2 separate regions of the Homo sapiens genome follow, and region 1 is linked to region 2. The links come from fine-mapping of genetic effects on gene expression. A gene starts in region 2. The other region holds a variant in brackets. All regions are shown on one strand. Distances are from middle to middle.

What was found.
Region 1: its variant is fine-mapped to the expression of PPARGC1A-AS1 in lung (TOPMed, PIP above 0.99).

The regions. Positions count from the first base shown.
Region 1 is chr4:23,720,689-23,726,069 of GRCh38, reverse strand. All of the region lies in intron 1 of LOC105374528 (a long non-coding RNA gene), which reads right to left. Among named protein-coding and RNA genes, the nearest start is that of PPARGC1A-AS1, 46 kb to the left of the region's middle. RefSeq lists an enhancer at 2,485-3,109. The variant T/C (reference allele first, on the strand shown) is at 2,758.
Region 2 is chr4:23,766,866-23,772,246 of GRCh38, reverse strand. It overlaps PPARGC1A-AS1 (PPARGC1A antisense RNA 1), which reads right to left and starts at 3,153. Exons shown (of 3, transcript XR_925475.3): 1 at 3,111-3,153. LOC105374528 (a long non-coding RNA gene) reads right to left here. Exons shown (of 3, transcript XR_925477.3): 3 at 3,200-3,928.

The sequences.
Region 1 (5,381 bases), 46 kb after region 2:
CCTCGCCAGGCAGAGCTAGGTCCCAATTCTTCCTCAGCCTCCGCTCCTCCACCCTATAATCTTTTTATCACCTCCCCTCCTCACACCTGGTCCGACTTACAGTTTCGTTCTGTGACTAGTCCTCCCCCACCTGCCCAGCAATTTACTCTTAAAAGGTGGCTGGAGCCAAAGGCATAGCCAAGGTTAATGCTCCTTTTTCTTTATCCCAAATCAGATAGCGTTTAGGCTCTTTTTCATCAAATATAAAAACCCAGCCCAGTTCATGGCTCGTTCCCCAGCAACCCTGAGACGCTTTACAGCCCTAGACCCTAAAAAGTCAAAAGGCCGTCTTATTCTCAAAATACATTTTATTACCCAATCTGCTCCTGACATTAAAACTCCAAATATTAAATTCCAGCCCTCAAACCCCACAACAGGATTTAATTAACCTCGCCTTCAAGGTGTACAATAATAGAAAAAAGTTGCAATTCCTTGCCTCCACTGTGAGACAAACCCCAGCCACATCTCCAGCACACAAGAACTTCTAAACGCCTGAACTGCAGTGGCCAGGCGTTCCTCTAGAACCTCCTCCCACAGGAGCTTGCTACAAGTGCCAGAAATCTGACCACCAAGCCAAGGAATGCCCACAGCCCAGGGTTCCTCCTAAGCTGCGTCCCATCTGTGTGGGACCCCACTGAAAATCGGACTGTTCAACTCACCTGGCAGCCACTCCCAGAGGCCCTGGAACTCTGGCCCAAGGCTCTCTGACTGACTCCTTCCCAGATCTTCTCGGCTTAGCGGCTGAAGACTGACACTGCCCAATCGCCTCGGAAGCCCCCAGACCATCACGGACGCCGAGCTTCGGGTAACTCTCACAGTGGAAGGTAAGCCCGTCCCCTTCTCAATCAATATGGAGGCTACCCACTCCACATTACCTTCTTTTCAAGGGCCTGTTTCCCTTGCCTCCGTAACTGTTGTGGGTATTGACGGCCAGGCTTCTAAACCTCTTAAAACTCCCCAACTCTGGTGCCAACTTAGACAACACTCTTTTAAGCACTCCTTTTTAGTTATCCCCACCTGCGCAGTTCCCTTATTAGGCTGAGACACTTTAACTAAATTATCTGCTTCCCTGACTATCCTGGACTACAGCTATATCTCATTGCCGCCCTTCTTCCCAATCCAAAGCCTCCTTTGCGTCCTCCTCTTATATCCCCCCACCTTAACCCACAAGTATAAGATACCTCTACTCCCTCCTTGGTGACCGATCATGCACCCCTTACCATCTCATTAAAACCTAATCACCCTTACCCCACTCAATGCCAATATCCCATCCCGCAGCATGCTTTAAAAAGATTAAAGCCTGTTATCACTTGCCTGCTACAGTATGGCCTTTTAAAGCCTATAAACTCTCCTTACAATTCCCCCACTTTACCTGTCCTAAAACCAGACAAGCCTTACAAGTTAGTTCAGGATCTGCGCCTTATCAACCAAATTGTTTTGCCTATCCACCCCGTGGTGCCAAACCCATATACTCTCCTATCCTCAATACCAGCCTCTACAACCCATTATTCTGTTCTAGATCTCAAACATGCTTTCTTTACTATTCCTTTGCACCCTTAATCCCAGCCTCTCTTCACTTTCACTTGGACTGACCCTGACACCCATCAAGCTCAGCAAATTACCTAGGCTGTACTGCTGCAAAGCTTCACAGACAGCCCCCATTACTTCAATCAAGCCCAAATTTCTTCCTCATCTGTTACCTATCTCGGCATAATTCTCATAAAAACACACGTGCTCTCCCTGCCAATCGTGTCCGACTGATCTCTCAAACCCCAGCACCTTCTACAAAACAACAACTCCTTTCCTTCCTAGGCATGGTTAGCGCGGTCAGAATTCTTACACAAGAGCCAGGACCATACCCTGTAGCCTTTCTGTCCAAACAGCTTGACCTTACTGTTTTAGCCTAGCCCTCATGTCTGCGTGCAGCGGCTGCCGCTGCTTTAATACTTTTAGAGGCCCTCAAAATCACAAACTATGCTCAACTCACTCTCTACAGTTCTCATAACTTCCAAAATCTATTTTCTTCCTCATACCTGACGCATATACTTTCTGCTTCCCGGCTCCTTCAGCTGTACTCACTCTTTGTTGAGTCTCCCACAATTACCGTTGTTCCTGGCCCAGACTTCAATCTGGCCTCCTACATTATTCCTGATACCACACCTGACCCCCATGACTGTATCTCTCTGATCCACCTGACATTCACCCCATTTCCCCATATTTCCTTCTTTCCTGTTCCTCACCCTGATCACGCTTGATTTATTGATGGCAGTTCCACCAGGCCTAATCGCCACACACCAGCAAAGGCAGGCTATGCTATAGTACAAGCCACTAGCCCGCCTCTCAGAACCTCTCATTTCCTTTCCATCGTGGAAATCTATCCTCAAGGAAATAATTTCTCAGTGTTCCATCTGCTATTCTACTATTCCTCAGGGATTATTCAGGCCCCCTCCCTTCCCTACACATCAAGCTCGAGGATTTGCCCCCACCCAGGACTGGCAAATTAGCTTTACTCAACATGTCCGGAGTCAGGAAACTAAAATCTTAATCTCTCCCACTCTAGGTTCCCACGCCGACCCTAATGCCGCTTGAAGCAGCCCTGAGAAACATCGCCCATTCTCTCTCTCCATATCACCCCCCAAAAATTTTTGCCACCCCAACACTTCAACACTATTTTGTTTTATTTTTCTTATTAATATAAGAAGGCAGGAATGTCAGGCC[T/C]CTGAGCCCAAGCCAAGCCATCGCATCCCCTGTGACTTGCACGTATACGCCCAGATGGCCTGAAGTAACTGAAGAATCACAAAAGAAGTGAATATGCCCTGCCTCACCTTAGCTGATGACATTCTACCACAAAAGAAGTGTAAATGGCCAGTCCTTGCCTTAAGTGATGACATTACCTTGTGAAAGTCCTTTCCCTGGCTCATCCTGGCTCAAAAAGCACCCCCACTGAGCACCTTGCCACCCCCACTCCTGCCCGCCAGAGAACAAACCCTCTTTGACTGTAATTTTCCTTTACCTTCCCAAATCCTATAAAACGGCCCCACCCTTATCTCCCTTCGCTGACTCTCTTTTCAGACTCAGCCCGCCTGCACCCAGGTGATTAAAAGCTTTATTGCTCACACAAAGCCTGTTTGGTGGTCTCTTCACAGGGACGCGCATGAAACCCGCCACCACGCCCGGCTAATTTTTTGTATTTTTAGTAGAGAAGGGGTTTCACCATGTTAGCCAAGATGGTCTCAATCTCCTGACCTTGTGATCCACCCTCCTCAGCCTCCCAAAGTGCTGGGATCACAGGCGTGAGCCACCGTGCCCGGCCGTAAGTAGTAATTTGAATGATTTCTACGTCAAAGATATGGCTACAGGCCAAGAAAATACAGTGGTGGGTTAACAGACACAGTCTTGGCCCTAAAAAGGTTTACAGTCTAGTGGGAGAAGTAGCCTCAAATAAGGGACTAGACAAATACATATACCATATTTATTTTTATATTAAATTATAAAAGGAAATGACTAAGAATCTGATCTCAGATTTAAAAAAAAAAAATCTGTCTCCACAAAATTGTTTATGTTGTGTGATGTCCCATTCCTTTTGCTCATCTATGTAAATATTATCCAATTTCTTTTGTTTATACATCCTATCACATTGCCCTACACTTAGTAGACATAATAAGTACACAGCATCACAAACAGCAAACCTTTTTGTGGTGCTTTTATGTGTCAGTCATTGTAAAGCTGCTCCATCTAGGCCCTGTGCTGAGGTCCTAACAGAGTAAGAGCCAACATTTGTTGGGTACTTTTTATGTCAGTGATTTTCACATAATATTTATTTAATCTTCATGACAACCTTTTGAGGTATAATTGTTTTTATAGGTTAAGTTGCTTTTCCAAGTTCCTACAACGATTGTCAAGTATCTGCATGCACATATGATCCCAGCTGGTTTTGCTCCATAATGAGTACTCAAAACCACTGTTCTAGTATTATACATAGTCTGAAAATACACTAGAACATATCAGAATGCTTTTCACATATAAAAGAAGGTATTGTTTTGTGAGTGGTTTTCAGTTACAAATGTACTTTTATAGACATAGAATAGGTATGTGTGTACAGGGTCCTAATATAAAATTCATTCCTTATTTGCACCATGAACAAAAAAGCTTAAAAAGCACTGCTACTAATCCACAGAATCTTCTAACATATTGGCGTATAGGAATACACTCTTCATACCATAAAAGTTCACTGTTCAAATGGGCTTTCAGAAGGAGGTAACGCAGCTTTAAAAGTTGACGCACTTGGCCGGGCGCGGTGGCTCACACCTGTAATTCCAGCATTTAGGGAGGCTGAGGCAGGCAGATCACCTGAGGTCAGGAGTTTGAGACCAGCCTGGTCAACATGGTGAAACCCCATCATCTCTACTAATAATACAAAATTTAGCTGGGCATTGTCACAGGCGCCTGTAATCTCAGCTACTCGGGAGGCTGAGGCAGGAAAATTGTTTGAATCTGGGAGGCAGAGGTTGTAGTGAGCCGAGATCGCGCCACTACACTTCAGCCTGGGTGACAGAGATAGACTCCGCTTTGAAAAAAAAAAAAAAAAAAAAAAAGGTTGATGCACTTTCTGTGGTTCGTGAGTTTTTGGAGTCAAAGACAACTGAGTTCTGCCCCCTCGAGCCTAGCCAAGAACGTTGGAGATTCTTGAGAAGTCTTATGTTTCCTCAATGAAAAAGGGGAATAACCAGGTTTTCTTTGCAGGGTTATTATGAAAATATACTGAAATTAAATTTCTTGACATACTACTGATTTTTTTTTCACATAATGATTTATTTTCCTTTCTTTTTTTTAAATTATACTTTAAGTTCTGGGATACATGTGCAGAACGTGCAGGTTTGTTACATAGATATACATGTGCCATTGTGGTTTGCTGCACCCATGAACCCATCATCTACCTTAGGTATTTCTCCTAATGCTATCCCTCCCCTAGCCCCCCACCCCCGACAGACCCCAGTGTATGATGTTCCCCTCCCTGTGTACATGTGTTCTTATTGTGCGGCTCCCACTTATGCGTGAGAAAATGTGGTGTTTGGTTTTCTGTTCCTGTGTTAGTTTGCTGAGAATGATGGTTTCCAGCTTCATCCATGTCCCTGCAAAGGACATGAACTCATCTTTTTTCATGGCTGCATAGGACATACCACTGATTCTTAACAAATGTTATCCTAAGTGACTTCTCTTTTTCCAACACCCCCACAAGTCATACTAATCAAAGCTCCTAAAGATTCTACAAGTCAGCTGTGTGACCACAAGCTGTTTGGCAGGTTTATCATTTCAAACCATTTGCTTAGGCTGTGATGACT
Region 2 (5,381 bases):
AGTGGAATGCTTTGGAAGGGCTTCTTCATGTAAATAGATATTGCTACCTTCAACTCCTACTGAGTCCTCTCATGGTAGTAGGTTATAAGACATTTAGTGGGCTGAAAATATATATTACCTGGTAAACAAGTGTGTAGAGCACTTATGTGTGATACTGATTCCTTGTCAAACTCAGAGAGACAGAGAAAGAAAGAAAGAGAGAACAGAGGGAAAGAGACAAAGATGGAAACAAAGAGAAAGAGACAGAGATAGAAACAAAGAGAGAGAGAATAATTTCATATGCCTCATTTGGCACTTGAAAATGAAGCAGGAAACCATGGTGTCCCCACCTGGGACCCCGATTCTGTGACCTGCTTTCTGATATGGTCTGGAAATTCTTAACCCAGTGGAACCCAGGGACACAGGTGTTTCATCTTCAGCAGGGTCCTGTCGGGGCCTCTCTACCCGAGGCCTCAGTCCTACACAGAGTACATTCTCCTTGAAGGAGGAAAGGAAGACTCCCTCCAGCTGGGCTGTCACAGAACTGCTATCTCTTCTCTCCATCCCTGCTGGCCTCCAGTCTTTTCTCTGTTTCACTCTTGTTATGGGAGCTGTGAGAAAAGAAAAATCAATTCTCTAGCTAAGGTCAGCCAGTAAAATTTGCTCCTAGGTCCCCTAACCACGGCCTGATGAATCCAGCCACATTTCTCCCAGGTTACAATTCAATAAAGCCTCCTAATGGCCTTTATCATGATTTCCCTCCACACAGGCTCACAGCAGCGCCTTTCATGCTCCCTTATAAACCTCCTTGTAGGGCAATAATTTTGTCTTTTAGTTTTTCTGGATCATTTTGGAGGTGAATTGGGCCAGGGTGCCGGGGTGAGGGTGAGGGCTGAAAAAACAAAACTTTTAGCCGCATCTGGTTATTCCATTTAGTTTTCGCGGCAAATTATTATAGCATAAAAGTAGCTTCAGATGGTGCTGACTGAGGATGGCTTGGCAGGGTTACTCCCTGGGCTTTACCTGGTCCCTGAGTAGTTATGCAGCATCTTTTAAATCATTCGTTCATTTATGCTAGGCCAAGTGTGAGAAATATTTTATGAGCACCTACCATGTGCTAGAGAATGAAGCTGTGGAGAAGAAAGAGTCCCGGATTGTTGCTCCCAATCCAAGTTGGAGAGACAGACCAGTAAGTAAGTCAGTGAGGACATTAGAATAAAAGCATCACAGAGCCCTTAACTGCTTTTCAAGTGGCAAGAGAAGCCCCCGTTTTCCTCCATAGGGGCAGAGAGCATCAGAGAAAATCTTTCTCGGCATAGCTGCCATGAACTGAATCTTGAATGTCAAGGAAGAAGCAGAAGTAGTGGGCTTGCACATATGCTAAAATTCCATATCTGCCATGTGTTAGCCATGTTACCCTGGACCTATTACTGATCCTCTTAAAATGCAGGTTCCTGAGCCCCAAAATAGGTCAGCCTTGCTTGCAGAGTTTTTGTGAAAGTTAACAAAATATAGGTAAGTGCTAGACTTATATCCTTATATCCAACACAAAGTAGATACTCAAGAGATGAAATTCTATTTTTGTTATTATTATGTATAATAATTTTTATTTATTAAGAGTTTATCAAGTATAAACTCAATAATAATTAGAACTTGAGCACGATCCATTGAAGAAATGAAAAGCTTTCAGTTTCACGGATATTTGCAATGGGTGTAGAGGGGAAGGGTAGGAAATCTGGAGCGGAGACATGTGGATGGTTATGCAGGAGCCAGTTCATTGAGAGCCTTCAGTACAAGGCTTAATGCAGTACAAGGCTGTCATAAACTGGCTCCTGCATTAAGAAGTAGGGATTCATTGAAGGTTAACCACTTTTTAGGAAGGGGGGTGTGTAAGTAATTAGATATCCAGATGATGATGTGGCCCTTATTGCCAGCTATCTGATCCCAGCTCATAAAGCCTTGGTTCACTGACCACCTAGACATGGAAAATAAAAACCCAGGCACCACTTTGCCTCTGAAGAATTCTCAGCAATTTTTCAGAAAGTAAAACATCCTCTGTGAAATTCTTGAAGATTTCTCCCCCTCACTCTGAAATGCCCTGAATTTCAAGCAGCTATAATGTTGCTGACTCATTTCTAGTTTCATAAGGATCTGGGTTGACTTGTCATGTTATAAATCTCCAGTTTATGGAATCGCTCCTACTGCTGTAAGGTAGACTTGGAAGTGTGTCAAAGGGATTCAAGGTGGGCAAAACAGAAGTTGAGCTTCAGTCTCATTATTTTGCTTATTTTTTCAGTGAAGGGAGACCTTTGATGATTTTTTACAGGGGCCATTATTTAATTTTCATCTTAAGGAAAAAATGTCAAGCAGTCGACTTTAAAGATATATGTCTATGTAAGACTGATTGTATTTAAAACAAATTTCCCAGAGCTTCCTTTAATCTATTATAGAATCTTTCTATATCATTCATGGCAAAAGTATGTCAGGCCTTTGATGGGAAGCAAATTTTCTCTTTTTAGGATTTTGGTGTGACTTTGTCTATTGTGGACAGGGACATCTAGCCACTTTAAGAAACTGAACACTCAAGCCTATGGGTTACAAAGAAAATGCAAAGGTATGGAAATGTGCAGTAACAGAAAAAAAGGCTGGACTGAAGACAAATATGGCTTATGTTACAATTTTGTTTTGGTTTGTCTTTTCCTAAGATTCAGCTATATTGGCAAAGCCTACAGAATAAACACCACAGGACTTGAATATAAGTTTGCAAGCAATCATGTATCAGGGCAACTCTTTGCTATGGAGAGTAAACTTGTTTATGTCTTTGCATGAGTTCCTCACTCCTTCCAGAATACACAGATGGATGGATGGATGGATGGATGATGGATTGTCAAGAACAGTAGCCCTTACCTGAAAACATAACTCCTTCACTCAGTGTTATATATATATATATTTAGCTTTCAAAAAGATGTAATCTCAGCTGGGCACGGTGGCTAACGTCTGTAATCCCAGCACTTTGGGAGGCTGAGGCGGGCGGATCAACTGAGGTCAGGAGTTTGAGCCTAGCCTAACCAACATGGAGAAACCCTGTCTCTACTAAAAATACAAAATTAGCCTGGCGTGGTGGCACACACCTGTAATCCCAGCTACTCGGGAGGCTGAGGCAGGAGAGTCACTTGAACCGGGGAGGCGGAGGTTGCCGTGAGCTGAGATCGCGCCGTTGCACTCCAGCCTGGGCAACAAGAGCAAAACTCCGTCTCGAAAGAAAAAAAAAAAGGAAAAAAAGAAAGAAAGATATAATCTCTGAATGCACTAATTATTGTTACTAATTTCTTTGAGGTTATTTTGTATTGTTTTGTTTTGCTTTTCTGCTACACCTTGCTTTACTCCCTTCTCTTTCTGGGTTTAATCCTCCTTGGACTAAAGCCAAGGTCAGAGAGAGTAATATGCAGTGCAACAGCCTGCCTAGTAAAACATATCTCTTTATTAGGAAATTGAGCTTCTACCTTTTACCAAGCTGTGGTTTCTTATAAGAAGAAACGCTGACTCATAATACAGGCAAGGTGATGTGTACATGCAAATACACAATTTTATCTTTTAGGCTGATTTCATTAAACAACAGATCTGTGGTATCTGAGAAGCTGTCAAATACTCAGGCTTGATTTTACATAATTATACAATATAGAATGACATTAGCTCTGTATTTTCTTATTGTTGTATCATCTCTCTCCCTCCCTGGAAATGTAAGCTCCATGGGGGGCGAGAGTTTTGAGGTTTTTGTTAACTAATTATACCATCATCTAGAACGGTGCCTAACACTAATAGAAACTCATTAATTATGTGAATAAATGAGTAACTTAGTGCAAAGTCACCATACTCTCCTTTATTTGTTTCCAGTTTTTGCTTCATGCAGGCTTTTGGTACCTCCCTTGGGGAGGGTTCACAGCATCACCTACAATGAGAGAATTTAGGGTTATTTTTCAAGTTCATGTCATTATAACATGGGGAGCTGGGATTTCTGTGCTCATTCTTTCTCCGTGACATCAGCTGATTTTAAGTCAACCTTTCTATATTTTTTACACTCTCTCTTTTTACTTCTGGCTTGGCTTTAATTAGAAGCCCATTTTTTCTTAGTTTTTTTTTTATGTACATACGTTTATTTCCAAAATGTTATTAAACTTAATTTTATGCTTTATTTTGTTCCCCACAAACTATATTACATTTTCTTTGTACCTTCTCATTTGCTCTTCTCCTATGTAATTCTTTCCTTTCAAGTCACCAAACAGCAATTTGTCTGAGTTTCCTGATAACATCTCTCTTTATTTTGGTATCTTCTGAGGTATATTTTAGCCCTTTTTAAATATAGCCTAGATAAAATAAGTACATTTAATGTACTTGGCAAGAAAGTGTTAAGCATTAACTCCTAATAATTCACTCCTTATTAGTCTCCTTTCAGGTAAGTTGCCAGACAGATTTCAAGTGATAAGTGGAAGGTCACTCAAACAAAGATCCATTTTCCTGGATAGGGGAGGGGCAGAGTTTCAAAAGTCACATGTAGAAGCAAATTCCTTCTAATGACAGCTGTAGTTTCTCCAAAATGATAGATAAATAACCTTTTGTGTAGGGTGAGTAGAGTCATCTTTTTATACATAACAGTAAGAATAGTTTTGACCAAGTTTCAGTGTTCAGCTATAAAGACAAAGGGACAGAGATAAAAGCAATTAATTATCAATATAAAGGACATTGATGGTTTGCTGGCTATGGTAATGAGTACAAGTATCATAACTATGAGGCTTTGAATAAATTCAATGAGATTCTGTGTGTCTTCTTGAGTAGGTAGTCTTGAAATGGCAAAGTCAATTAGGACTGAAGGGAAATAAGAGGGTAGAAAACAAGACTAAAACACTCAGTACCTTGTACCCTAACACCCGCTGCAACAACAAAAAGAAAGATATTATCAATTCCCGGATCAGCATGGATTTGTGTTTGAATCATGAACCATACCTGTACAATGTGTGTAAGTAATTGTTAAAAAATACAGTTATGTGGCCAGAGGCGGTAGCTCACGCCTGTAATCCCAGCACTTTGGGAAGCCGAGGGGGTTGGATCACGAGGTCAGGAGATCAAGACCATCCTGGCTAAAATGGTGAAACCCCCCTCTCCACTAAAAAAACAAAAAAAAAACCCAAAAAATTAGCCGAGCGTGGTGGCAGGCACCTGTAGTCCCAGCTACTCAGGAGGCTGAGGCAGGAGAATGGCGTGAACCCGGGAGGTGGAAGTTGCAGTGAGCTGAGATCGCACCACTGCACTCCAGCCTGGGCGACAGAGCAAGACTCTGTCTCAAAAAAAAAAAAAAAAAAAATACAGTTATGTTTTACATCATATACCAACTCCAACTGATTGGT